Homo sapiens: one gene and its partners. The protein of the gene in region 2 interacts with the protein of the main gene of each other region in a pairwise test. Each region holds a gene or a part of one and is shown on either strand. Other genes may lie near its edges. The genes, in order: TENM4, PLSCR4, HDHD3 and RBP3.

Region 1 (7,216 bases), on a different chromosome or scaffold from region 2:
TCAAAATAATGCCGATGCCCAAGCTCCAAGCCCAGGGATCTGATTTCACCCACCAAGGGTGGGGTTTTCCCACCATTATTTTCTAAAATCGCCACAGATAATTTGAATGTGAGGCCAGATTTGAGAATCACTGGTCTAGAACTATGACAGACAGAGGCCATGGTTAGCTTGTCTTTATGTCTCTAGCAGCTAGCCAGCTGTTAATCCATGAACTCAAAGAATTGAGAAATCATACATGTATCATATCAACCATGTATGAAGAATCTTTCTTAAGCCTCTGAACAACTCCTACTTCAGCCTCCAGACTCCATCTGCCTTTCCCTCCCATCTTAGAACATCAGCTGCCATTATTTGGTGGGTTATGGTGGGTCAGGGACTCTGTGCTCTTGTCATTCCCATTTCCCATATGTGACTATTGAAGCTCAGAGAGGCAAAGTAACTTGCCCACAGTCATAAGTAGTGGACTATGCTCTGAACTCAGGCCTATTTGACTCCAAAGTCTACCCTTTTGCCTACTATTTTGTTGTTGTTAACTCCTTCTTCATGTTTTGTCAGTCTAATGAGACCATCACATGTCTCAGTGGCAGCTCTTTCATGGTTTCCCGGTGATCAGGGGGCTGACGCTTCATTGTTGATGATAGGCTGCATGAGGATCAAGCAAGACTGTATATGAAGCCACTTTGGACACTGTTATGGGCTACATGGGCTATGGGATGGATTAGTGGTGGGCATCTTGCCAGTCATTTGAGTATCGGTGTCTTCATTGTCAGGTTCACCTGGAGTGGCCCACAGACTTAGCCATCAACCCAATGGACAACTCACTTTATGTCCTCGACAACAATGTGGTCCTGCAAATCTCTGAAAACCACCAGGTGCGCATTGTCGCCGGGAGGCCCATGCACTGCCAGGTCCCTGGCATTGACCACTTCCTGCTAAGCAAGGTGGCCATCCACGCAACCCTGGAGTCAGCCACCGCTTTGGCTGTTTCACACAATGGGGTCCTGTATATTGCTGAGACTGATGAGAAAAAGATCAACCGCATCAGGCAGGTCACCACTAGTGGAGAGATCTCACTCGTTGCTGGGGCCCCCAGTGGCTGTGACTGTAAAAATGATGCCAACTGTGATTGTTTTTCTGGAGACGATGGTTATGCCAAGGATGCAAAGTTAAATACCCCATCTTCCTTGGCTGTGTGTGCTGATGGGGAGCTCTACGTGGCCGACCTTGGGAACATCCGAATTCGGTTTATCCGGAAGAACAAGCCTTTCCTCAACACCCAGAACATGTATGAGCTGTCTTCACCAATTGACCAGGAGCTCTATCTGTTTGATACCACCGGCAAGCACCTGTACACCCAAAGCCTGCCCACAGGAGACTACCTGTACAACTTCACCTACACTGGGGACGGCGACATCACACTCATCACAGACAACAATGGCAACATGGTAAATGTCCGCCGAGACTCTACTGGGATGCCCCTCTGGCTGGTGGTCCCAGATGGCCAGGTGTACTGGGTGACCATGGGCACCAACAGTGCACTCAAGAGTGTGACCACACAAGGACACGAGTTGGCCATGATGACATACCATGGCAATTCCGGCCTTCTGGCAACCAAAAGCAATGAAAACGGATGGACAACATTTTATGAGTAAGTACTAAAACAAGGCCATTTGATGATTTTGTTTCATTAATTCATTGTAGGATTGGAGGTAAATTGATCGAGTATTTTATTTTAATTCAGGATTTGGGATAAAAACTATTACTTATAATACATTCTACATGTTCATATTCCACATGATTTCTCCTAGGAAGGAAATGGTCTAGTGGAGAAGGCATAAGCTTTGGAGTCAGAGGAGCTGGGCATCAGTTCCCACTCTACCATGGACTTAATCCCTATTGGCCTCAGTTTCCACATCTGTAGAATGGATACAGTGGATACCTGCCCAGCATACCACAGGGAGATGGTGTAGATGAAAAGTACTTACCTGATGAAGTGCTAGCATCTTCATATGACCACTGTCCACAAATGTGGCAAGGGGAGAAGGAACAGGCACATGTGGATGAATTTTCCACATAATTGAAGCTCTTGTCTTCAAATTCCAAAAAAAAACCCTTTTCATTTTAACCATTTTGCATGGGACTTTTCTTATGAAGTGTATTGCATACCTCCCTTCTCAAACACACTACACAGACATAATGAAACCTTTCTTTTTCTGATTCAGGGTCATTAATAAGGAACAACAATTGCATATTACGCTGTAATATGAAGAGAGCTTTCAGGAAGTAGGGAAATGAGGATATAGAGCCCTTTGCCCCTGCCTGAAGTGATTTTAAACCATTACTTTATTAGGCCCTGTATCTAAAGGGTAGGTTTCTCTGCCTCCTCCCTCAGGGTTGTGCTGTGGTGTCACTATTTATTTCAGTCCTAGTGCCCACCTCAAGTAGCTCATTTCTTTATTCTTCATCCAGTGGAGGACTTCTTAAGAGGTGTGATCAGAGAACCAGAAGTTCAGCTTATTATAATCCTAGCAACAATTAAATATATATATCTGGGGTGTTCCTCTAAGAGATATTTAATGAATGGACTAACATCGCTCTTTCTACTTAGATTTTTTTAAGCTGCTTTTTGAGGTCTTAGCCATGGTTCACACGACTGAGATTGCTGAATATGTCACCATTAGATAAGCATGTGAGAGGTGGGGAAGGAACTAGCCTTGTTGAGTATTAGCTGTGGGCTAGGAGCTACACCACTGCATTTAATCTGCACAACAGCTCTGAGGATGGGTGATATTATCCATTTTACAGACATAGAAACTGAGGCTCTGAAGGCTCCTTTGCCCACTGTTTGATAGTGAGACATGGCAGAACAGGGATCGCAGTCCAAGTCTGATGCCAGAGCTTGGGCTTTCTCAGTGCTGCCCTGCTGCCCTCCCTGCATCCTACCCCCGCACCAGTGCCACACTGAGTTTGTTAATTCCAAATGAACCTGACTCTTTAAAGTTTTTCTCAAGCTTGATCAAGCATCAGTTTCTAACAGTCCTAGGAGAATCCAAAGGAAAAGGATCTGTAGTTGATTTTTAAATATAATTTGAACAGACATGTCACAGCGATTTGTACAAAGTTCACTGGCTAAATTCCTTTCTCCAAACAAGGACCTTGTTAATTACAAAGAAAAGACAAAGATCCAGGAAAACAGCAATTATCTTGATTAACTCATTGGAATGGAAATACGCTAAATAATTCCATTTTGCCCATTGCCCGATGGAAATCTCTTATACATTATTTAGCCAATACAGGGGTTTCTTTGTCAGAGCAAGTCTGTGCACTCAATTAGTTCCCAAAGTCACTCCCTCAGATCCCAAACCGAATGCTCACACATCACTGCATCCATTACGCTCCACCACCCCTGAAATCTAAAACGGTTTCCTACACTTCTACCAGGAAAGATCCCTCCCTTTCTTTCCTTGATGAAATATACAGCTATAGTTGATGTTTAGTGAAGAAGGAAAAGTTTTTACAATTGCTTTTTTATAAAATGGCGTCTGGAATTCCAAAGACTGCACTTCATAGCGGTACCCAAGAGTGGTTATCCTTGTTAACACAAACCAGAAGTGGTAGATAAAAGTCCTAAAATAGAAAGGGAAACTAGTTTGTTTTTGTTTTTGTTTTTGTTTTCTGAGATCCTACTATGTGCCAGGCTCTTTCCCATTTAATCTTCACAGCAACCTCAGATGGCAGGAATTATCATCCACATTTTTTACATATGAAGTACAGAGAGATTAGATAACAAGCCTGAAACCACACAGTGAGTATGTAGCAGAACCAGAACACAAGTCCCTGTTCTTTCAACTGCACTGGCTAGGGTCACCTACATTCTTTGTGACTTATCTGTACGATAGGGATGACAATAGTTATGTATTTCATAGGAATAGTATGAGGTTCAAAATTTCAGTGAGATAAAATATGGAAAGCTCAGTGTCTGATTGATTATAAGTACTCAAATGATAGCTGCTGCAGTTGTTGTTGTTGTTGTTGTTGTTGTTAATGCAAGCAATATTAGTGGCAGTACCAGTAATTGCAGAAGTGTTGTTTGGGTGTGAAAGGTATTTCCCAGGAGCAACTGCAAGTAAACTAATCAAAAGAGTAGACAAAAGTTTTAATTGAGGTAGGTAGGAATCAGAGGTCAGGTGAGAAGAGCAGAATCAAATATGAGAGATCAAGAAATGAACTAAGAAAGAAGTCAGATCCCTGAGAATATCCAAAGTCGGCTGGAAAATAACACGCAGAGCCACCCAAGGCAAAATGGTCCAGCTCAGGCTGAGAATGAAGCAAGGGTGCCAGACACCTATTTTCACTGGCTGCGAGCCATGTGACTCAGGGACAGGCTAGCTGGCCTCCAGACCCAAGTCTCAACCAGACAGAAATAATCCCCTGCCCTACCCCATTTCTGGGCTATTATGAGGACTAAAAAACTAAATAAATACTGAAAGTAAAAAAACTTTGCAAACTATGAGGCTGTCTAGAATTAGAGGTGTACAGATATTTCATTATGGTGTTTCTTAACAAGGATTTGGACAGATTTTGCCAATGAACCATTAATCTAGTGAATTTTCTACCTTTAGCTTCATGAGGCAGTTTAGTAGATTATAACCGAAATGTTCTATTTTTCTAAAAAAAAAAATTGCCCAGGCTTGCCTGTGACATAGGCTATTATTGAAACAAGCTGTTTGTTTATTTGTTTGTTTGTTTGGTTGGTTGGTTGGTTGGTTTGGTTCGGTTTGGTTTTTGAAATGGAGTCTCGCTCTGTTGCCCAGGCTGGAGTGCAATGGTGCGATCTCGGCTCACTGCAACCTCCACAGTTCTCCTGCCTCAGCCTCCTGAATAGCTGGGATTACAGGCATCTGCCACGACGCCCGGCTAATTTTTGTATTTTTAGTAAAGATGGGGTTTCACTATATTGGCCAGGCTGGTCTCAAACTCCTGACCTCAAGTGATCCGCCCACCTAGGCCTCCCAAAGTGCTGGGATTACAGGCATGAGCCACCGCACCCGGCCTGAAACAAGTTTTAAGTCAGCTTTGCCAATTCTCTTAAAAGATTAAATAGTACACCTAACATAAACATCACACACTTCAGAGCACCTTGATTTACAGAGTTCACAGTTTTGGAGAATCAAGGTTACTTTCCTCCCCTCAGCCCACAGGTCTGCTGGTAGGAAGCTCAAAGGAGTCTGAAATGCAGTCCCCACCTCCCATGTGTGGCATCGTTACTCTCAGACTTAGCTCCTGGTCAGATGGCATTTGGTGGCTGAGAAAATGGCCTCATAAGTATGAGGCAGGTTCCAGAATTGACTTGCTGGATGGATATGAGCAACCCCCTTCCCTGAATTTCATAGGGGAAGGGGCTCTGGCCTCCCACAGTGCCCTGTGACAACTCCTATTATAATTATGCTCACCTTAACTACTGTGAGACCCTTACAAATTTGTCTTTGCGTCAAGCTTAGGGTTTGCCAACTAGTCGGCTGACAGATAGTCAATATTTTATAATGACACGTAAATTCAGAATGGAAGGGAAATAGAGACAGGAAGAAAAGATATGCTGTAGTGAGAAGAATGCTAGATTCACGTCTGAGCACCAGCACTGCCAGTGCTCCCAACGGGACATAGAACTCAACTGAAATGGGTCAAATGAAGAGATTTGGCCTCTGGTTTTTACTTGGGGATAGGAAAGCTGGAAAGTGCATCATGCCCAACCTTATCATGAAAATAAGCCAGACAAAAGGTAAATTCGTGCGTTTCCTTGAACTCCTTCTCTGAGGTCAAATCCAAGGAGAGACAGAGTCTTGCAGAAAGAGACAAGATGTGGGCCCTGCACCACATCTTGCTGCTTGTGGGCAGATGCACCAGCTCCGGGGAGAAAGAGTTCAGCTGGGATGGCTGGTGAATTTACAAAGGCTAAGTGTGTACTGGCAAGAGAGTCTGAAGCCCTTGGAGGCTGTAGCAATTGGGCAGGTCCATGTCTTCTTAGGGACTTTTTTCTCTACAAATCCCACCAGGAGTTTTCCCACAGAAAAGAGTGAGGAAAGATTTAAGAAGAAAGTGTCCTTTGTGGTCGACCTGGGGGAAGGTCACAGCAGCTGCTGAGGGAGGAGCATACACCCCTGACCACTCTACCCAGACCCTGCTCACCTCATCTTCCATCAGGAACAACACCCTTCATCTGTGAAGAGAAGGGCAGCGAACACTGTCCTGCCTAGGCACTGGGGAAAATCCTTTCAGCTGAATGAGGGAAGAAAAGAAATGGAAAAAAAAAAATCCCACATACCTGAGAGTCAGAACCCTAGCAAAGGCTTTGCCACCACCATAGTTAGCTGGAAGGCTAAAAGCATCAGTGAAGGGCAGAAGACTGCTGGGAGGGAGTTAGAGAACGGCAGGAACATGGAAAGAGACCCTCTCTGAGTCAGCACAAAGGGAGGACCCAAGGGCTGAACTGTGGACCTTGAGGGAAAAAAACCCTCTGGCAAACCAGTTTCACATCCTAAACACAGGGAATTGCTAAGGGAATTTAAAACCTATGATACCTAGAGGCTAACCATAAACAGACTTCAAATCCTAGGTTAACCCAAACCCCCTCACAAAAGTCCTAGCACAAGGAAACTCACACCCATTTCCAGGCATAAACCTATCACTCACTCAGGCTCTACCATGCTACACAAGATGTCACGCTTTCAACTGAACGTACAAAAGGGCAAGAAAAGGCAACACATTCCCGAGAGGCAAAGAAATCATCAGAATCACGTTCAGGTATGACACAGGTGTTGAAACTATCTGTCAGAGAATTTAAAATAACTATAATTATTTTAAAGGCTCTAATGGAAAAGGCGAACAATGTGCAAGATCAGATGGATAATTTTAGCAGAGAGACAGAAACGATAAGAAAGAATCAAATGGAATTGTTAGAAATGAAAACCACGGTTATAAGGATGAGAAATGCCTTTGATGGGCTGCTCTCTCTGGAGGACACAGCATGACACAGCTGAGGAAAGAAGATGGTTAATAGAAATTACCCAAACTAAAATACAGAGAGGAAAAAAAAGAGTGGAAAATGCAGAACATGGCATTCAAGATCTGTGGGACAACATCCAATAGTCTGATATACATGTAATTGGAATTCCAGGAGAAGAGGGAAAAAATAGGGCAGAAGAAATATTTGAGGAAA
Region 2 (7,216 bases):
TGCATTTCTAAGCAAGTTATTTTCTGTAGGGAAAAGAGAAGCGGTTTTGGAGAGAAACCAAACAGAGTCTGAATTCTAGATATGTCACCTACTTAAATCTGTAAAATTTAATTAACCTGTTTGAGCCTTAGTGTTCTTATACATAAACTGGGTAGTATAATACATCATAGGATTACTGAAATACTTAAATGATCTGTTAAATAACATCCTTTACTAAATATTAATTTTTTACAACCGTCTCCAGGCCTTATTTACCTGTAAAATGGAAATATTAATAGTACCTATCGGATAGGATGATCATTTTAGGGATTAAGTCAATTCTTCTGCACAGTTCCTAGCAAATAGTATAGTACTCAATGAATATTTTCTCTTTTCAGAAATCTTACTCCTTTGTTATTATTGTCTTTGTGATAACAGCCTTATATGTGAAGTGAATACCTATTATCCTTGATCCTTTTGGATATAGTAGGCATTTATCTTCATATTTATGAGTTAGATTTTTTTTTAATCAAAGCCTATAGATACAGCCTTCTGAAATTATAGGAAGCCAGAATAAAGGAAAGCAAATCAAAATTACAGCTGGGCAGGATGGTTTACACCTGTAATTCCAACACTTTGAGAGGCTGAGGTGGGAGGATCACTTGAGGCCAGGAGTTTGAGATCAGCCTGGGCAACATGGTAAAACCCCATCTCTACAAAAATAAAAAATAAAAAAATTAGCCAGGCCTGGTGATGTGTGTCTGTGGTCCCAGCTACTTGGGTGACTAAGGTAGGAGGATCACTTGAGCCCAGGATATCGAGGCTGCAGTGACCTGTGATTACACCACTTCACTCCAGCCTGGGTGACAGAGAAAGACCCTTACTCCTAAAAAAAATTACAAGCCTAGTCCAATTTATGACACTTTTGTCTCATAACTTTACCTAGGTTTTTCTTCAGATTTCTCCAGTTTTACTTGTATTAATTTGTGTGTGTGTGTATACATTTAGTTTGTGCAGTTTTATCATTTGTGTAGATTCCTGTTTCCATCAGCACAATACAAATCCCAAACAGTTCCATCATCACCAAAGTCCTCTTTTATTACCATATCCACATTCCTCCCTCCTCTTTGTCCCTAGCCCTTCAGAACCACTAATCTGTTCTCTATGTTTATAATCTTGTCATTTCGAGAGTGTTATTTTAGCAGAATCATATAGTATGTAACTTTTCAGGATTGGTCTTTTTCATCCACAGTAATTAACTGGAGATTCGTACAAGCTGTTACCACTAGTTCATTCCCTTTTATGGCTGAGTAGTATACCATGGTATGAATTTTTAAGGAATTTATTTTTGTACATTTTTATTTTTATCTCATAGGTTTAAACTTATATGAGAGCTCTATGATACTCTCAAATTTATATATTTGTATATAGGTGTGAATTTATACATATGAACAATAATACCTTAATTTAATAATTTATGAAGCTGTGCAGTCCTGTTCCATGTCCTGGGTAATCCTTTCCCCAAATTCTTATGAAAGTACATGTAACACCAGAGAAATAGTCAATAAAATTTTCACTTTGGGCTTTTACCAAATAATTTAATCTTTATGACTCATTATTATTAAACAGGAAGATCTTAATTATTCACAAAATAATATTGTTGAAGATAAATAGCTAAAAACAGGGTAGTGGACAATATTTTAAAACTTTTAAAAAATGGCTTTATAAACCCATGTACACATTTTGTTGTTTTCACAATATATAATTTTCAAAATGCCTCTTTTTTGTTTTCTGTTATAATTTTCATGTCTGAGATTTGATTTTACCCAATTTCAAATCTAAAAAGTCAGCTTAACTGTTTAATAGACTGAGTCAGAAGAAATGAGACTCCTAGGAAGGAGACAGAGGACCGTTTTACAGCACAGCAAGCAGCATAAGTGTGTAGGTTCCCCTCATCTCCAAGTTCTGAGGTTGACTTGGAGAAGCCCATTGCTTCCTCATTGTAAGCCTTTTATTTTTTACTTATCCTGAGAAAATTGTTCTTTCTGATGGAGAAGCAGTGTAGTGTAGTATCAACAGTAAGCCTTGAAACCAAGCCAACTTATCTCTGTGCCACTTCCTAGTTCCATGTTTTAGAAAGTGTTTAACACTTGCAAGCCTCAGTTTCCTCATCTGTAAAATGGAGATTAAAATACTTATATTTTTCAGAGTTATAAATATCAGCTGTTTATGCAGCTTGCCAACACTGAACTTGGACAACTGGCCATTATGTAACAAGCCCTAATTAAGCCTGCTGTCTATCCCAGAGGCAAACATGACCTCATCCGTTAAAGCTTTTCACTGAAATCCAACCTGAAGAATGGCCTGGGTGAGATGGAAGGCTGTCACTCCCAACAATAATTTCCCTAGTCTTTGAATGAGTGAGGACACATCTAGATTGTGTATGTGCGTATGTGTAAGTGTATGTGTATGCATGTAGCATCCTAACTTCTGTCACTGTTTTGTTTGCAGCTGGAGGTGCAGTGTCCTCCTGGTGTCACCATTGGCTTTGTTGCGGAACATTGGAACCTGTGCAGGGCGGTGTACAGCATCCAAAATGAGAAGAAAGAAAATGTGATGAGAGTTCGTGGGCCATGCTCAACCTATGGCTGTGGTTCAGATTCTGTTTTTGAGGTGAAACTATGTAAAAATAGTGTTTCTGATATTTTTCCTACTCATATTAACAGACCATGGAAAGATCTGGTTGTAGACATTTTTTTTTAATGTGAATGAATAACATAGTGTTAGGAAAGAGTTAATTAACCAGTTGACATCAAAAGATTTTAAAGTTATTGTGAGTAGATTGAGGTTTTCCAAAATGAAAGCTTTTTTTATGACTTCAGTACTTGATAAAAATAAAAAGAAATCATTTAATACATTAAATATTCTGAGAGTAAATAGCTTGACCTAATTCATCTATTCTATTGTTGGCTATATGTAATTAACCATTTTTTTCCCTAGATTTCTAGGCTGGGAATATAGGCTCTAAGTAATGCAAGTGCCCAACATGTCACAGAACATACCAAGTACTCCTTAGGCTGTGGAAATACTTATTTGCAGGATACAAGTCTGTCAGCATCCTCAAGAAATCGGATAACACTAACAATATGGATAAAACTTATAATAGTTTTAACATTTTTTTCAATAAAAAGAAAAATTATTTTGTTTTGCCTTTATCTCACTGGCTACAAAATGCTGGTTCATTACCCTACGAGTCTGACACAGGAAATTCCTAGAAATATTTCCTAGGCTTCTTAAAGAATATTTTTTGAATGCCTTGCAATTAGGCAAGATTCATCATCTTCAAAACTGCTTGCTCATATGTTTCCTATGATACTCAAGAAACTTTCCTTAGTTCTTATTTTCTATTACTGTATCGTTAAGCATTGCTTATTTATTAAAAGAGCAATGTAGATAAGCCAGATTGCTAGGGCAGGGTGTGTGTGATCATTCCCATTGCCAAGTGACATTAGAAGTTAGTATTTGGATATTTTCCCTGTGACAAGTGCCAGGTTTCCCCTTTTAGAAACTGAAGCTCGTTGGTATCTGGCCGTATATTAAGAAGACAAGGTGAATTTCACTCACAAAAACTTAAGTGATGTGAAGTGAACAGTACTTGTTTCCCGGTTTTTGCTCATAGGTTTCCCTAGTTTGGAAGTGACTCTCTCCCAATTCCCACCCTTTACTATGTTGAGAAGAATTTCATAATCAGTTCAAATCATACCTCTTCTTAAAAGGTCCCTTAATAACTCATTTGAAGATGAAGAAAGAGCAGCAGTCTGAGACTTTTAAGAATACCCTAGCTCAGTTATTAACCAGTTGCAAGGCAGTTAACCCTTTTTGGCCATTATTTTCTCATTTCAAATTATATAATTACATAGTCTTTTTCTGCATTGTATTTATGTTATCTGAACATAAGCAGAACATTAAAACATGCTTCAATGCGTTTCAATCATCATAAAGGCACATTCTTGTCATTCCAGGTCAAATCCCTTGATGGCATATCCAACATCGGCAGTATTATCCGGAAGTGGAATGGTTTGTTATCAGCAATGGCAGATGCTGACCATTTTGACATTCACTTCCCACTAGACCTGGATGTGAAGATGAAAGCCATGATTTTTGGAGCTTGCTTCCTCATTGTAAGCCTTCTATTTTTGAGTTATCCTGAGAGAGTTGTTCTTTCTGATGGAGAAGCAGTATAGTGTAGTATAAAGAATAAGCCTTGAAACCAATCCAACTTATCTCTGTGCCACTTACTAGTTACATGGTTTAGAAAGTGTTTACACTTGAAAGCCTCAGTTTCCTCATCTGTAAAATGGAGATTAAAATACTTATAATTTTCAGGGTTATGAATGTTAGCTATCATGGTAAAATGACCAGGGGAGTACTTAGATAACATTAGGTATCCATTGGGTATAATTATCATCATTGCATGTTATTTGTCATTGTCACTACTTAAAAATGCCTAGCCTATGATTTCTTAGTGAAATAACTCTAAAGTGGATGTCCCATTCCTCCTTCCTTTCTGCCTGTCACTGTACTCTTTGGGGTTGTCCAATCCTGAGATTATGAAGTTTTTCCTCTTTTTAATGATGAGATTCAGTTAATTGGCACTTCAAATGGAAAACTAACAGTTCCAAATTTGTAACTGCTGCTCTTCACAGTAGGTGCTCTTCATAAATATTTCCCTAAATTTATGTATTTTAACTGGAATGGGGGAATCCCCTAATAAATTACAAAGGATAATACCGCATGCATTATACCTAATTATCTATATATCTACATATAATTCTTTTTCCAATTTCAGGACTTCATGTATTTTGAAAGATCTCCACCACAACGTTCAAGATAGAGAGACACAGCAAGCCATCAACTATGGTTAATTTTGAAAAATGGAAAAGTTGGATTGGGCTTACAGTCAGCACTCAGTTATTTGCAAGTGTATTTCTTTGCTTTGTAGAGTATTTTTATTGGGTGTTAACTTTGACAGCTGAGAGTGGGCTTGCAAGAACACAATCTAAAAGTGTGTTTCAATTGAGTATCTCTCTAGTAGAATAGGAGTTCATCCTGAAAAGCTGTGACTCATTAACCCAGTAAACATATACAAAGTAAGCTTAAAACACTATAAACATGAGATAAGGGAAAATGAATCCAGAGTTCTCATATTAATAGGTAGTGAAACAATAAGGCTTTTTAGAGCAGACTTTGTTGGCATAAAATAACCTGGCTTCTATCCCTAACCCTTTCCTACCTTTCCTCTCCGTCAACATGTCCTCATACTGAAGACAAACTTGTTTCAATGATAGTCTTCATTTTTAAAAACAAAAAGGCAGGCAGACAGAAATAATGATGTTTTCTTGCACTAAGAAGGTACTACTTGTACACATATATCAAAACCTCATTCTGCAAAGTTTTTGAAGGTTTCAATGGGAAATTTGATTTTATTACAAAATAAAACATTTTTTAATGTTAAAGTTTATATATTCCATGCTTGTTTTCTCATTCACTGGCATGGATGATCAGGAGCTGCCTATATATGAAGGCAGAATCAGACTATCAGGAAAGGAGCTGGCCAGGGCCACAGCCAGTCAAGATCTCTGAGCAACTTAGAGACATTGGTGTCATTATATGAAGCTTGCATTTAATACATTTATACATAATACATTTGTACATTTAATTCATAACGTCTCTTGGTCACAGATGCCTTATATATAAAATAAGTTGCCAGATCTCTAAGATTGCCTAGTACACCTTTGTATCTCATTTGATGTGATACCCAGAAGAGATCATTGTTTTTTGTTTTTGTTTTTGTTTTTTTCAAGAAGATCCTTCGTGATCACCATGCTGTTCTCATGGTAAGAACTGGAGTTATGTTTTTAAATTTGGAAATATGACATTTTATGTAGCACTTTATAAAAAGTGAAAGCGACAAATTCCACCGCTGCTTAATACTGCTTTGCTTCTTTTTATTGACATGATAGATAAATATGTATCTACACAGAGTAATAATAATAAAACACAGTAAACATTCTATTTCTCTATGGTCTACAGCATGCCAGTAAATAATATGTAGGACCAATAATAAATTATCAATTACACATTTTTGTGTTAACTAATTAAAAGCATAGTGTATAAGTGAGTACACTCTAATTAACTTGCTTCTGTTGCACTTTAGTTTTCTACCTGCATATGGACTGCATTTTTTTTTTTTAACACAGTCAGTATGTAGAATGGGATGTATTCTTCTGCTGCTGCTTATTAAATAAAGAAAGCCTGAGTGTTCTTAGATGGGGTTATTCTGAGATGAGGGTCTTAGCCTACAGTTCTTTTTGAAATGAAAGGTGCTTTGTTTTTTAATTATATTCATCTTTTCAGGGTAAATTTGTTTTTCTGAGTTTCTCGTAATGCTCATTTTTACATGCTGCTACTAGCTTTTTTTTTTAAAAAAAGTAAAAGTTGCTGCTTTCTAAAATATTAATTGCCTTATATTTGAAAGTGCCATTGCAATCGTAAGTAGACTATGTATTTCCTATAATGATGTCTGATATTTAAATAGGAAATCAGACAAACAATATTCAGAAAGTTTAAGCATATAAACTTTTTATTTTTAACTTGCCTAAATCCCTGTATTCCAAAACCTGCTGCATCATAATAAATATATCTATATATATTTAGCATAAGACGTGATATTTTTAATTTCTTTTTTAAAAAATTATATTTGTCTCTTAGAGTTAAAATTTTCTTTATATAATATTGTCATATGTCATAGTTTTAATACAATTCACATGATTTCTATGTTTCTTAATGATATTTTGTTGTGTAAAATTGATCGGATTGATTAAAAAACAAATTCTCTGGAATTTGTGCGTTCATGCTTTTTCGTATTCTTTATGGCTTTTAAATAAATATACAATGGTTAATAGTAAAACACTGTTTTATTTTTTGACTTTGAATCTTCAAATACTTTTTTCACAGGGATTTTGAAGTAATTTTTATTGATTATTAGGTTTATTCAAGGCCCTTGCTTTCTAATATAAATTTTAAATTATTTTTAATTTATATATTTAATATATATTTAATTTATATATTTTTAATTATATATATTTATATATAATATATATAATTTATATATAATATATATTATATATATTTTTATAATATATAAAAATATAATTTATATATTTTTAATTTAATA
Region 3 (7,968 bases), on a different chromosome or scaffold from region 2:
AAAAGGGCCAGGCTCGGTGGCTCATGCCTGTAATCCCAGCACTTCGGGAGGCTGAGGCAGGTGGATCACCTGAGGTCAGGAGTTCAAGACCAGCCTGGCCAACATGATGAAATCCTGTCTCTACTAAAATACACAAATTATCTGGGCGTGGTGGCAGGCACCTGTAATCCCAGCTACTCGGGAGGCTGAGGCAGAAGAATCGCTGGAACCCAGGAGGTGGAGGTTGCAGTGAGCTGAGATGGCACCATTGCACTCCAGCCTGGGCAACAAGAGTGAAACTCCGTCTCAAAAATGGAAGAAAGAGAGAAAGAGACAGAGAGAGAGGGAGGGAGAGAGAGAGGGAGGGAGGGAGGGAGGAAGGAAGGGAGGAAGGGAGGGAGGGAAGAAGAAAGGAAAGAAAGAAAGGGAAGGGAAGGGAGGAGGGAGGGAGAAAGGAAGGAAGGAGAGAGAGAGAGAAAGAGAGAGAGAGAAGAGGGAGGGAGGGAGAGAAAGAAAGGAGAGAGAGAAAAGAGGGAGGGAGACAGAGAGAAAGAATGAAAAAAAAAGAAAGAAAGGAGGGAAGGAGGAAGAGAAAGAAAGAAAGAGAGGAAAGAAAGAAAATTAGATACATGTTTGTGTGCTGCTAGAAAACTGTGTCATAGCATAACCAAAACTGTCACCTCAGCAATCCCTGGGGAGTGAGATGGGGTGGGGAAGCCCTTCTCTCCCTGCCCCAAGGCTACTGCCCTTGTTCAGTAAGCAGGCTGAGGCCCCACACCCTTCTTTCCGGTTCCTCACCTGGAGTACTTTCCTTGATCTTAACCTGACAACCTCCTTCTCACCATTCAGATCTTTGTTCCTTCCTTGACCACCTCATCCAAAGAGATACCCTGTCACTGTTCATAAAATGATTGTTTTTACCGCTTCCACTTCTCTCTCTGAAATCACTTTGTTTATTTATCTACTCAATGGTTGTCTGCCCCTCCCATGCCCCATGCAGGCAGGAACCACCTTGTTTCCCACTGAATCCTCAGAGAAGGACAGGGGACACAGAGCCCACAGATGTTAGGTGGTCAATGAATGAGGTTGGGTGTTGGTGGGGGGCTGGCTTTTTATTTTGTACACGTTTGTATTTTGCATTATTATTATTATTTTTTGAGACAGAGTCTTGCTCTGTCACCCAGGCTGGAGTGCAATGCTGTGATGTCAGCTCACTACAACCTCTGCCTCCCAGGTTCAAACAATTCTTGTGCCTCAGCCTCCCGAGTAGCTGGGATTACAGGCACCTGCCACCATGCCCCACTAATTTTTGTATTTTTAGTAGAGATGGGGTTTCACCATGTTGGTCAGGCTGGTCTCAAACTCCTGACCTCAAGTAATCCACTGGTCTCGGCCTCCTAAAGTGCTGCAATTACAGACGTGAGCCACCACACCCAGCCTGTTATTATTTTTTAACAAGATGGGGTCTCACTTTGTTTCCTAGGCTGGTCTCATACCCCTGAGCTCAAGGGATCCTTCCACCTTAGCCTTCCAAAGTGCTAGGATTTCAGGCATGAGCCACTATGCCTAACCCTGAATATGTCTGTATTTTTTTTAATAGGAGAAAAAGCATATACATTTATTTGATCATAGTTTTTTTGTGACATGGGAGCCTTCAGAATGAAGAGCCACAGATACAGAGGAAACTGTCCATTTTTATGCTTAGGTTCAACGAAGTGTACATGGCCGTGTATGTAGGGAAAAGAGAGATCAGACTGTTATTGTGTCCATGTAGAAAAGGGAGACATAAGAAACTCCATTTTGACCTGTACCCTGAACAATTGCTTTGCCCTGAGATGCTGTTAATCTGTAACTTTGCCCCAACCTTGAGCTCACAGAAACATGTGTTGTATGGAATCAAGGTTTAAGGGATCTAGGGCTGTGCAGGATGTGCCTTGTTAACAAAATGTTTACAGGCAGTATGCTTGGTAAAAGTCATCGCCATTCTCCATTCTCGATAAACCAGGGGCACAATACACTGCGGAAAGCCGCAGGGACCTCTGCCCTGGAAAGCCTGGTATTGTCCAAGGTTTCTCCCCATGTGACAGCCTGAGATATGGCCTCGTGGGATGGGAAAGACCTGACCGTCCCCCAGCCCGACACCCGCGAGGGGTCTGTGCTGAGGAGGATTAGTAAAAGAGGAAGGCCTCTTGAAGTTGAGATAAGAGGAAGGCCTCTGTCTCCTGCCTGCCCCTGAAACTGAACGTCTCGGTATAAAACCCGATTATACATTTGTTCAATTCTGAGACAGGAGAAAAACCGCGCCGTGGCGGGAGGCGAGACATGTTGGCAGCAATGCTGCTTTGTTATTCTTTTCTCCACTGAGATGTTTGGGTGGAGAGAAGCATAAATCTGGCCTGTGTGCACATCCAGGCATAGTACCTTCCCTTGAACTTATTTGTGACTCAGATTCCTTTGCTCACATGTTTTCTTGCTGACCTTCTCCTCACTATCAGCCCGCTCTCCTATCGCATTCTTCTTGCTGAGATAGTGAAAATAGTAATCAATAAATACTGAGGGAACTCAGAGACCAGTGCCAGAGCAGGTCCTCCGTATGCTGAGCGCCGGTCTCCTGGGCCCACTGTTCTTTCTCCATACTTTGTCTCGGTGTCTTATTTCTTTTCTCAGTCTCTCGTCCCACCTGATGAGAAATACCCACAGGTGTGGAGGGGCAGGCCACCCCTTCACATGTAGAAACAGGATTGCACAAAACGCTAATAGACTGAATAGAGAAACCCACCAAGACCCATCTGTGTAGATTCTTCTTGGCCTCTCTGTGCAGTGTTCCTTCCTCCAGGGTATGCGGCAAGACCCTCTCAAAGGGGCCTGGGTGGTGGGGGCTGTCTTATGACCTGTCTTGCCTAAGGTCATAGTGCAAGGTGATGAGACTAAAGAGGAACAGAGCACAGGCACAGAAGTATCTCAAAGCTTCCCCTCCGGTACCTCCCCAGCCTCTTTGGCCCAAACCCCCTGGCTAGCAACATTCCTATAGTTCCTCAGTGTCTCTTTGGTTCGGAAAAAAAACTTTCTTGCCTGGAGGCCTTTGCATCAGGGGGTCCCTTAACCATCACTCAGATCCTTCCCCTCTGCATGGCCAACTCTCATATGTTTGTATTTTTTAGTTTTTTGAGACTAACATGCATTACATGCATACCTTATTTATTTATTATTTTTTTATTTTTTTATTTTTTTGAGATGGAGTTTTGCTCTTGTTACCCAGGCTGGAATACAGTAGCCTGATCTTGGCTCACTGCAACCTCCACCTCCCCGGTTCAAGCGATTCTCCTTCCTCAGCCTCCCAAGTAGCTGGGAATACAGGCATGAACCACCTCGCCTAATTTTGTATTTTTAGTAGAGACGGGGTTTCACCGTGTTGGCCAGGCTAGTCTTGAACTCCTGACCTCAGGTGATCCACCCACCTCAGCCTCCCAAAGTGCTGGCATTACAGGCGTGAGCCACCGCGCCCAGCCAACATACATTACTTTTGCAAACAAAGATAAAACTCTTTTTTTATTCTTCAAAAGAATAAAAAAGCTCCCTGGTGGTCTAGTGGTTAGGATTCCAGGCTCTTACCACAGGGATCTTTTTTTTTTTTTTTTTTTTTGGGGACACAGTCTCGCTCTTTGCCCAGGCAAATATTGTGCAGTGGCAGAATCTTGGCTCACTGTAAGCTCCGCCTCCCGGGTTCATGCCATTCTCCTGCCTCAGCCTCCCGAGTAGCTGGGACTACAGGCACCTGCCACCATGCCCGGCTAATTTTTTGTATTTTTAGCAGAGACAGGGTTTCACCGTGTTAGCCAGGATGGTACCACAGGGTTCTTAAAAACAAAAAGAGGCCAGGTGCGGTGGCTCATGCCTGTAATCCCAGCACTTTGGGAGGCTGAGGTGGGCGGATCACCTGAGGTCAGGAGTTCAAGACTAGCCAGGCCAACACGGCGAAACCCTGTCTCTACTAAAAATACAAAAATTAGTTGGGTGTGGTGGCACACACCTGTAATCCCAGCTACTGGGGAGTCTGAGGCAGGAGAATCGCAAGAAACTGGGAGGCGGGGGTTGCAGTGGGCTATCGCGCCACTGCACTCCAGCCTGAGCGACAGAGGGAGACTCCGTCTCAAAAAAAAAAAAAGAGAAAGAATAAAAAAGCAGGTTACTGCAGCGGACTCTACCCTCACCAAGTTATCTTGGATTTAACAAGTTTCCAACTGAAAGCAATTCCCTCCAATACCAACTGGGGACCCTGAGACCAGAGAGGGGCTGGGCCTTGCCCAGGTTCACACAACACTAAGCAAGCCAGGCTGGGTCCCAACTCCCCTCCTCCCACTCAACCTGGGTACTTCTCGGGGGTTTCCCGATCCAAAGGAGGCCAGGAGCCGGGGTTGGGGATGGGGAGCGGAGACAGCGGTGAGGAGCGGCGGTGTGGCGGGCAGGGGGTGCGCAGACAGGGCGGAGAAGGTGCTGGTAACGGGGGCTGCGGAGCGGAAGGGTGCGGGCTGGGGAACCTCAGAGGGTGCGGGGAGGGAATAAGGGGCGTAGATGGTGCAGGGTAACGGAGGCGCGCAGTGAAGGCGGGTGACAGGGGCGCAGAGAGGTGCACAGTGAGACGAAGGAGGGAGAGGGGACGGCGAGGGCGACGGGAGATGGGGCGGGAGAGGGCGAAGGTGAGGGGGATAAGGGCGGGGACGGGGCGGGGACAGAGGCGGGTCGGGATGGTAGGGAGGGGCGGCCCGCGCGATCCCCGCCCCACCGCCCGGCGCTTGCGCACCTCCGCCCGAGCTCGCGGGCCTTGCGGCTGCGTTTTCAATCTGCTTCCTTGTGAGTCAGGTGGGTCCTGGGCCCAGGAACCGGCCCGGAGCCGTGGACGCCCTACAGCTGAGAAGGGGACCCAAGGGGTCGGCCGCGGCCAAGGCCCCTAGGACCGCCGCCCCAGCTCACGCTGCCGACGGCAGCTATAGACATTCTGCGTCAGGTCCGGGCTCCTGGACTTCGCCTTTCCCGAGCCCTGGAGGTGGGGAGAAAAGGTGAGCAGTTCGTGCCTGCAGCGCAGAGCCCCAAACCCGCGGTTTTAGAAATCGAAAAAGCCCTGCCGGGCGCGGTGGCTCACGCCTTTACCGTAATCCCAGCACTTTGGGAGGCCGGGGGGCGGGGTGGGGCGGGGGAGGATCACGAGTTCGGGAGTTCGAGACCAGCCTGGCTAACATAGTTGAAACCCCGTCTCCACTAAAAATACAAAAATTAGCCAGGTGTGGTGGCGCGCGCCTGTAGTCCCAGCTACTCTGGAGGCTAAGGAAGGAGAATCGCTTGAATCCGGGAGGCGGAAGTTGCAGTGAGCCGAGATCGCACCACTGTACACCTGGGTGACAGAGTGAGACTCTGTCTCAAAAAAAAAAAAAAAGAAAAAAAGCCGGCCGGGTATAGTGGCTCACGCCTGTAATCCTAACACTTTGGGAGGCTGAGGTCGGGAGTTCGAGACCAGCCTGGCCAACATGGAGAAACCCCGTCTCTACTAAAAATACAAAAAAAAAAGGAGCCGGGGATGGTGGCGCATGCCTGTAATCCCAGCTACTTGGGAGGCTGAGGCAGGAGAATCGCTTGAACCTGGGAGGCGGAGGTTGCAGTGAGCCGAGATCGCGCCATTGCACTTCAGCCTGGGCAACAAGAACGAAACTCCGCCTCAAAAAAAAAAAAAAAAAAAAAAAAAAGCCGTGGGTCAGGAGCCAGAGCCCTCTGCTCTAGTCTTAGCTGTGCCAATGTGACTCCCTGTGTGATTTGGGGGTAAATTACTGCCCCTCACTGGGTCTCTGTCTACCCACCTGCAAAATGAGAGGATCTTTGGATGAGTCTCCTTAATTCATTTCCTGGACAAACTTCCTCCAAGGCTCCCCCAGATTTACCAGTGACGCCCTTCCCTAAGTATCAACTTAGCCGTACTTTGAACTCTGGCCCCTCAGGTTTCAAGGGGACGGCCTTGTCTGGGATCAGCTCTGTCTGGGGAAAGAAGCTGCACCAGCCTCTGGATAGCAGGCTGAGTCACTTGTTTCTTGTGCCTTGAGTCAGTTCTCTCATCAGCTCTCCTCCTAGGCCAGTGTTATTACCTCCAGTAAAGATGGAAAAGTTGGGGTTCAGAGAGGGCTAGAGACAGACAGCCTGCTGTGTCCTGTCTTTTCTCCTGTGCTGTACAGGTTCACCAATTTTTAAAATCCAAATATATCTCATGGTACAGTGGAAGAACTGGCCAGAGAGTCTGGAAGTTTGGGTTCTGGTCCTGGCTGTGCCACTGACTCACTGTGACCTTGGGTAAGTACCTGCCCCTTTCTGGCTCAGTCTACTCTGCCCAGCAGCCAAGATATCGTTCATATGCTCTGCAAGGCCCCTTCTGTCTTTGACATCCCTAATAATGATAATAGCAATCATAATAATTGTGTCCTGTGTGCCAGACAGCTGGCCTCTGTCTACTTGCCCTGCCTCAGGGCCTTTGCACTTGCTATTTCCACTGACGGGAGCACTCACCTACCTCTGCTTCTTGCACATTCATTCTTCTGATCTCCATTGAAACTTGACTTGCAGGGCTGGGAGTGATGGCTCATGCCTGTAATCCCAGTACTTTGGGTGGCCAAGGCTGGGGGATCACTTGAGTCCAGGGGTTGGAGAGCAGCCTGGGCAACATAGTGAGACCCACCCCGCCCCACCACCCCACATCTCTACAAAAAGTTCAAAAATTAGCCGGGCATGGTGGCACGTGCCTGTAGCCCCAGCTACTAGGGAGGCTAAAGCAGGAGGATTGACTGAGCCTGGGAGATCGAGGCTGCAATGAGCCATGCACTCCAGCCTGGGAGACAGAGAGAGACCCTGTCTCACAAAAAAATTAAAAAAAATAAATAAAAAGAAACTTCACTTGCTTATGACATTCCCTAACTACACAGACTAGATGCGGTCCCTGGATTTAGATCCTTACGGTATCTATTGACTTCATTATATTTAAGTGTTTGTATAGTTCTTTGCCTAATATCCGTATCCCTGTTCTTCAGTGCCTGTAAATGCCCTAAGGGCTGGAAATCTATCCCATATGCTAGCAGCTAGCTCAAAAAGGTGCTCAGAAATTTGTTGTGGATTCAGAGTGACTTTCCTAGGGTCACACCATTGGCAGCACCAGAATTTGAACCCAGTCTGTCTGATGTCAGGGCCTGAGCTTCCACCTTACCTGCTATTTTTCATTCTAGGATCTTGTGCTGTGAAGACATTTCCCAAGTGCTTCATGTTAGCCAGCAAATCTGACCCACAAGGCCTGGAAAGAGGTGATTGTTAGGTTGCGCAGAGGTGGTCTTATCCAGCTCAGCTTCCCCTGGGACCCACCGTGGGACCTGAGGCAGAACTGGGGTGGACTTGGCCTCCTCCATGGCACACCGGCTGCAGATACGACTGCTGACGTGGGATGTGAAGGACACGCTGCTCAGGCTCCGCCACCCCTTAGGGGAGGCCTATGCCACCAAGGCCCGGGCCCATGGGCTGGAGGTGGAGCCCTCAGCCCTGGAACAAGGCTTCAGGCAGGCATACAGGGCTCAGAGCCACAGCTTCCCCAACTACGGCCTGAGCCACGGCCTAACCTCCCGCCAGTGGTGGCTGGATGTGGTCCTGCAGACCTTCCACCTGGCGGGTGTCCAGGATGCTCAGGCTGTAGCCCCCATCGCTGAACAGCTTTATAAAGACTTCAGCCACCCCTGCACCTGGCAGGTGTTGGATGGGGCTGAGGACACCCTGAGGGAGTGCCGCACACGGGGTCTGAGACTGGCAGTGATCTCCAACTTTGACCGACGGCTAGAGGGCATCCTGGGGGGCCTTGGCCTGCGTGAACACTTCGACTTTGTGCTGACCTCCGAGGCTGCTGGCTGGCCCAAGCCGGACCCCCGCATTTTCCAGGAGGCCTTGCGGCTTGCTCATATGGAACCAGTAGTG
Region 4 (7,216 bases), on a different chromosome or scaffold from region 2:
CAGGATCACATGCCCATGCCCTACTGCCAGAAGGGCTGGAAAAGTGGGGCTTCCAGAGTGTTCAGCTTTGTGGTGGAGAAATTATGACAGCTAACATTGGCTGGACACTAGATTAACTCACTTCATTCTCACAACTCCAAGTGTAGTATTATTTCTCCCATTGAACAGGTGAACAAACTGAGGCCCAAAGAAGTGAAACAAATTGCCCAGAACCACTCAGCTGGGGAAGTGGCTGGGCTGGTTTCCCACCCAGGCAAGGCTGACATCACTGTTTCCTACTGATTCCTATGGGCAGTGATTCTCTGATCATCCAAAGGTGCTGCAAATGCTGGGTGGCCCAAAGGAGGACACAGGTCCACCATGCTGGATGTGTGACCTTGGGTGAGCTGCGGAGTTTGTCTGTGTCTCAGCTGGCTCCTGGGTAGAAGATGAGAGTGGCCAGCTATGCAGCCGGCATGAGGCTCAGAAGAGACACAGCCAGTGTATGTACATCACCAGCAGAAGGGCCGCACCAGCCCTTTCCCTATTTAAGATCCACAAGATCTTTGCCACCTGCTGACCCCACAGCATCTTGCACCACATCTTAAATAAAATCAGCTGTCCATAGAGGTCAGCAGGGCAGATCCAGAAGATCTAAATAATGTGAATGGAGAACTCATGAAAAGAAGAGATTTAACAACCACTAGTGATCACTAAATTGTGGTTAATGGCTCGGGTATATAATTTATTTTATCTTCTTTATTTTGTATTTTGGAATAATGATAGCTGCATCTGAAAATAATGATATATGCACATTAATGAGTATTTAAGAAAAAGAGCAAAGTATGAAGAAGGAAGGTAAAAATACCACCCCAAGTTCTACCACTTAGAAGGAACCTTTGTTAAAATTTAGGTGGTTATTGGAAAGCCATATATATATACATATATATACATACACATATATATGTGTATATACATGTGTGTGTGTGTATATATACACACCTCCAGCTGTAACCTAACCAGAGCTCAGCAGGCCCCTTTGCTGCTCCTGGGAACCTCAGGCCGGGCCACCTGCAGGAGTGCCCTTGGTGTGTGTCCCAGAGGTTCTGTCTGCCCTGGGGCTCTGCCTATGGGGCCCTTCCCTACAGGTGGTCCTGCAGGCCTGGGCTCCGCTTCACCCTCAGCTGGTTGTGCTGGAGCATCTCCTTGGCCCTGGCGAGAGCCTCTTCTGCAGGGACAACCACATGGGGTGTCACCCCCACCCCTTCCCAGGAGCTGCCATCCGAGGCCCCCACAGAACGGGCCGTGGGGATAGTGAGGTAGAGGTTGGTGTCATCCACGTGGTAGGTCTGTGGTGGCTGGCAGCCCCCACTGGTCACCTCCCCAATGACCAGGGCCCGGCCCAGCCTCTTCATGATATAGGTGAACTCCTCCGCGGTGCCGGCCGTCACACTGCTGGTCAGAATGACCATGCTCTTCTTGGAGCCATAGCGTTCACCTGGAAGACATAAGGCCCTTCAGGATGGGGGTCATGTCAGGACCCTGGAGCACCTGTCTTCTCTATCCTGCCTGGGCCTGCAGTGATGGAGGAGGCCCGGGGGTTTAGGTCTGTGTCCTTGTGTCCACTTGTGAGCCACTTGACTTCTCTGAGCCTTGATTTCTGCATCCGTAAAATGGGGACAAGAATGCATGCCCAATCACGAGGATTTCAGTGCTTGACAACTCCCAACGAGGCCTTTTTATGCCAAGTGATAGGAAAGGCTTGACTCTCCTGAGAAAGGAGCATCCTCTCTCTTCATGAATAATGAGAACACCTAAACCGACCTGACTTCCTTTTCACTTTGGACTCAGAAAAGCCCAATTTGTGATGTATAAGAACAACTCTCCAGGACAGCACTGTCCAACAGGAATGCAACGTGAGCCAGAATGCTGGCCATAGATGTCATTTTAGGTTCCCTAGTAGCCATGTTAAGCAAGCAAAAAGAAACCCATGGTGTTAATTTTAATCATGTTTTGTTTAAGCCAATGTATCCAAAATACATTCTTTTCAAAATGTAATCAAATAAAATTATTAATGAGGTTTTCTTTTCATAATGTCTTCAAAATCTGGTATGCACATTACACTTCCAGCACATCACACTTCCAGCACATCTCAACTTGGGAGAGCCACATTTCAAATGCTTGGTGGCCGCAGGTGGCTTGTGGCTCCCATATTGGACCTTGCGGTTTTGGGGCCTCATTATCTGCAGAATTGAGTCTATCTTTAACTTCCAGTCTTGAACATCTATTTGAATTTAGAATTCACCTGGTTCTGATTTGCATTTACACTTGTAATATTATTGAACGTATGTCCTAGGAGCTACAGCAAAATGCCTGTGTATTACAGAAGCATGGACATGAAAATGGTGGGGTGTTTCTCTGGTCACAGGCACACCCCCATCGGTCTCTCCAGTCCTTTCTTGTTGGGTAGGAGCACAAGTTCCTTGGTCTTACACACTGGGCAGGGAAGATAGATGGAGGCCATCCACCCTGGAATGGGGCTTTGAGAGTTATGGTTCTGTAAAGCTCAGGGCCTGCCTTTGCTCCTATAGCCACTGCTCTGGGCCCAGGGCGGGGAACAGAAGCCCGATCAGCATCATGACCTTTCCAGGCAAGTTTGTGGCACTGTGGCTTGAGAGCTCAAGTACTGTGAGCACTGGCAATGCCCACTGGGGTTGGTGAGGGGCGGGGAGAATCCTTCAAATTCTGCATTTGTCCTGCAGGCTGGTGATTATGGTGCTAAGCCTGGGGGAAATTTTGGTATTAGACAAACTAATATTCACATTTTGGGTTTCACTTATTAGCTGCATGACCCTAGAAAAGATATTTGACCTAGTCAACACCCCCTTTTTTTTCCTCTAGAAAACGGGCATAGTGATACATGCTTTTCAGGGATTCGAGATCATGCACATCTAGTGCCTGGACTAGGACAGGGCCTTACATTCTGGTTACTATGACTTTTACCTACACCCAAGCTGTCTTTCCCTGGTTTCCCAGAAGCTTCTAGAATGACAGCAGAAAGGAGAAAGCTTCTCCACGTACCTACAACCTGGGCGTGTGTCCAGAGTTCACTGACAGAGTCATCAGGCCGGCTGTAGATCTTGTCCAGCAGAACTGGAGGGCCTTCATCAAAGAAGTAGGAGCACAAGATGGGAATGGAGGATGTGGGGCCACCGATGTTGAACCTGAAGGATGGGAAGCAGAGCCTGTTCAGGGGCTGAGCTCACAGTGAGGCCCTGTGTGCCCCTCGGGGAGGCCAGGATCTTTGTCCCATGGAGGGTTCTAATTCTTGGCAGCCTCAGTCTAGTGCCTCTTCCTCCTTTAGAATTCCATGGGTTGGCATTTTCCAGAGTATTTCCAAGAGTACTAGTCTCTTTAGAACAAGAAACTTAGTGATCAAATATGTTATCCTTTCCTTCTGCTATGTAATTAATACATGTTAATATATTAAAGGCCCTGACAAGTCCTGCAGTCAGAAACTTGTTGATAAATTTCCCCCATTTATTGACCATGGACTGCTCCCCTGCACCCATATCTTCCTATGAGTGGAACACATTTTGGGAAACATTGTTTTTCCCGTTGCATTCTGTGACAATCTTATGACACCTACCAGCTGTCTTAGTTCAGGTGTCTTAACAGGGCACTTAGTGTATTGAAATATTCAGGCTTGTGGAGCTGCATTGGGAGCAGGGGAGCCTGTATTTCTCCCAGGCCATTTAGATTTGTCCCACTGTGTGACCTCGTTGGGCCCCTGTCTCCCCACTGGGGCTAGTGATGTGTTAAGGAGCCTCGTCCAACTGATGGCCTGGGATGGCCTGGCTGGGTTCGGGGCCTGTGATGTCAGTGTCTGAACCTCCAAACAAACCTCAGGGGTGGGAGGGTCTTTAAGCAAAGTGCACTTGCAGGCTGGGGCCATCTCCTCTTTAAAAAGTGTAAATGGCATATTCAGAAGAAAGAGACTTAGCATGAGTGTCATTTGGGTGCTCAACAGAACTTCTAAAGAATAAAATGATCAGAGAGACCCCAGGAGCCTCAAGCTCAGGCTGTGAACACACACAGAACTGGAGCCAGGGCTAATGTTTTATCTCCCAGGGAGGAGAAGCAGTGGGTGCAGGACCGAGAGCCACCTAGTGACCACTAAGAACCATGTGAGTGAGCGCTGAGGGCTAGAGAACTGGAGCTGGGTGAATGCTTCTGGTCTGCCACCCCCTGCCACTTCTTTCAGACAACACGGGAGCATGGAAGGGTCCCGTCTGAGGAAGGCAACCTGCCCAGGGAGGGTGCTGGGGCATGTCCACCAATGGACCCCAGAGTCATGGGATGCCAGGTCTGGCCACTGCCTGAGGGTACTCATCCACCTCCTACCCCTGGTCCATGAGGTAAACTCATGACATATGAGGCACATTTTTACAGAAACAGAGGGGAGGTGGCTAGCTGAAGACATCCTTCTGACAATCATTTGGTGATGCAAAGAATTCTTTTGTTAACAATAGTGATTAACTTCTAAATTTTCCCTGTGTGATTTCCAAATTCTGCCTGTACGATTCATATGACCAGGGTTGTCATGTGTTGATTTTGTATGATGTGAGGCACACTCCCAGGTGGGGGGCCTGGCTGTCTCACACACCACTGACCATCAGAATCACCTGGGATGCCTGTCAAATAGAGATTATCGGGCCTGTCCCCTGGAGCTTCTGAGTCAGTAAGAGGGGAGTGGGGCCCAGGAATCAGTGTTTTTAACATCTCCTTCCTCTCCTCCCCACTGAATCCTATGACCAGGCAAATCTGGGGTAATTCTCAATCTGGAATGCACATTGGAATCACTGGAGAAGCTTGCAAAAACTACCAGTGCTGGGCCCCACCTGCAATGACAGCAGATCTGCTGGGCTAGCTGGCCGAAGCCCTGATAGGCAGGAGGCCTGGCCCCCCTCAGGTCCTCTGCTGTGTCACAGGGTTCCTTTTCTTCCCTGCTGTGGCCCATAGCTTTGACTGTCCCCTGGCAGCCCTGCGTCCTGGCTAGGAAGCACTGACCCCTGGCCACTGACCTCATGTCGATGATCATGGCATCCGTGTGCATGATCTTCTTCCAGATGTGCTCCACCAGCAGCCTGGAGACCTGGGTGAGCAGCTCACCGTCCCCAAACATGTCAAACCTCAAGTAGCCAATGTTGTCCTCAAGCACGTTAGTGTGGAAGGAAAACTTGATCAGCTCTTCAAATACTTCAGGGGAAGGGATCTGTAAGAGTTGGAGGTCCTACTCAGTGTCAGGAGGAGCAGCCAGTTTTAGAGCCCAGGAAAGCAGGCGCCATGGGAAATATTAAGGGCATGGGACAGGAACTAACATTTCTGAAGGAATTAGTAGACACCAGGGACTTTCCCAGTGGCATGTCTGGATGTGACATGCCACTGGGACATGTGTGATCTATGGGCAGCCTCCTTGCAGAGGATGCTCCTGTCTGCCACCCACATGCCCTGGTGTCCTGAGCTAGAAGGCCCAGGAATGGACTCCCCTCTGACCTCTCCAACCTTACCAGATACTTCCTATGTCTCTAAGCTGCTCCACTGGGGCAGGATTGGAAGATGTTAGTTACCTTTACCAGGCACCTGGCCCGGTACTAAGCACTTTGTAGAGCTTATCATCATCCTCACAGCCACCTGTACAGGAGATAACACGATCCCCATCTTTTCCATGGAAAAACTGAAGCACAGAGAGATTAAGTAACTAGTCTCAGGTCACACAGTCAGTAAGTGGTGGAGCCAGAATCTGAATCCACATCTGACTCCAAATCGTGAACCTTGGCTATACTGGAAAGGAAGGAGATGTTGATTTGGAAACTGGGGATTCTGCAAGCCTAGCACAGGCTACTCGCACGTGGATGCACCTCCTCCTCCCTCTCTAAGGCTGCTGGAGGGAGGCAGGTCTTGGTGAGATTGACAGGCAAGGAGACTTCATTGACAGAGACACTGCCCTCCAGGCCCTGCCCTGCCCTCAGTCACAGCTCTCTGGCCTCAGGCCACTCCCCTCTGCTCCTCTCCGGGCCTCAGTTGCGGAAAATGGGGATAACAATTCTGTAGTAGATGCTTTTGGCACTCTCAGCCCCCTCTGCTTTCAGCTGCACCCGACCCCACTGACAGGCTCTCCTATAGCACAGCCCTGCCTTTCCACCCGTAGCTCAGGCCTTCTCCAAGAAGAGGGAGCCTGCCCCACCCTGAGGCATGTCTCAGGGCAACTCTTGGCCAATGCGGGACAGGAACCACTGGGCCCTGCCTGCAGAGGGCTATGCCTGGGAGCATCCCTGCACTCGTCAGGGTCCTGGCTTCAGCAGAACAGCTTTGAGGCACCTGCCTGTCAGCTTCCCAACCCACTCTCCCTGCTCCCTCCTTCATGCCTGCTTCAGTAACCGCCTCCCAGACAAAGCGCCTGCACCCAAGCCCTGGTCTCAGACCCTCCTTGCAAGGGATCCCATGGCAAATGCTGCCCTGCCCAATTGTGACGATGCAGCAGACCACAGGTAGAACAGTGTGGAGGTGTGAGTGCTGCCTAGGTGGAGCTCTCGGCCAGCGTGGGGCACTTGGTGAAGTCCATTGGCCACCTCTGACAGGTGTTGGCCTCTTCCCTAGCACTGACAATGAGAAGCCCTGCCAACACTCACCTTCCACCCAGCCAAGGCTGAAATGCCTTCTATCCCAGGAGCTTCCGAACTGGCTTCCTGTGAGTATTGGTTGGCTTTCAAACTGGCTTCCTGTGAGGTGGGTGCAAAAGTAATTGCGGGTTTTGCCATTGAAAGTACTTTTGCACCAACCTAATATGAATGTTCTACAGAGGTGTTCAGCAACCCCAGGGTCACAGAGAGTGGATGGAACAGGTTGAGAAAGAGGAAAGGACTTGACCGGTCAAAACTTAAACGTGAGAACAAATCTAAAAGCCATTGTCACGCACTGTGCACAGAGCCCTGCATGTGCGGACAATGGGTCAACTCACTCCCGGGACTGGGTTCAGCCAGGTCTCTCTTGGGTCTCACCTGCATGGGCACAATTCCAGGAATGCGGTCCTTGGCATTCTCAGGGATATGGGCTGCCTTCAGGTGTGGGTCTCCGGAGAGCATCTGCAGGTCAGCCCCCAGGATCTCGGCTAGGGCCACTTCTGAGGTCACCCTGGAGTAGCGGCTCTGCAGACCGCTCAGTTTGGTGGCCATCT

The links.
Region 1: the proteins of PLSCR4 (region 2) and TENM4 interact in binary tests that used the Homo sapiens proteins (3 or more experiments, as listed by UniProt).
Region 3: the proteins of PLSCR4 (region 2) and HDHD3 interact in binary tests that used the Homo sapiens proteins (3 or more experiments, as listed by UniProt).
Region 4: the proteins of PLSCR4 (region 2) and RBP3 interact in binary tests that used the Homo sapiens proteins (3 or more experiments, as listed by UniProt).

Annotation. Positions count from the first base shown.
Region 1 is NC_000011.10:78,695,958-78,703,173, reverse strand, and holds part of TENM4 (teneurin-4), read left to right. Parts: intron 1-770; coding exon 771-1,648; intron 1,649-7,216. UniProt on the Homo sapiens protein: Involved in neural development, regulating the establishment of proper connectivity within the nervous system. Plays a role in the establishment of the anterior-posterior axis during gastrulation.
Region 2 is NC_000003.12:146,192,068-146,199,283, reverse strand, and holds the end of PLSCR4 (phospholipid scramblase 4), read left to right. Parts: intron 1-2,490; coding exon 2,491-2,652; intron 2,653-4,001; coding exon 4,002-4,160; intron 4,161-4,828; coding exon 4,829-4,873; 3' UTR 4,874-6,949; downstream 6,950-7,216. UniProt on the Homo sapiens protein: Catalyzes metal ion-induced ATP-independent rapid bidirectional and non-specific movement of phospholipids (lipid scrambling or lipid flip-flop) between the inner and outer leaflet of the plasma membrane and participates in the redistribution of phospholipids between membrane leaflets.
Region 3 is NC_000009.12:113,373,797-113,381,764, reverse strand, and holds the start of HDHD3 (haloacid dehalogenase-like hydrolase domain-containing protein 3), read left to right. Parts: upstream 1-4,778; 5' UTR 4,779-5,036; intron 5,037-5,164; exon of another isoform or gene 5,165-6,197; 5' UTR 6,198-6,312; intron 6,313-7,235; 5' UTR 7,236-7,410; coding exon 7,411-7,968.
Region 4 is NC_000010.11:47,351,363-47,358,578, reverse strand, and holds the end of RBP3 (retinol-binding protein 3 precursor), read right to left. Parts: coding exon 7,041-7,216; intron 5,255-7,040; coding exon 5,064-5,254; intron 3,204-5,063; coding exon 3,061-3,203; intron 1,478-3,060; coding exon 1,122-1,477; 3' UTR 698-1,121; downstream 1-697.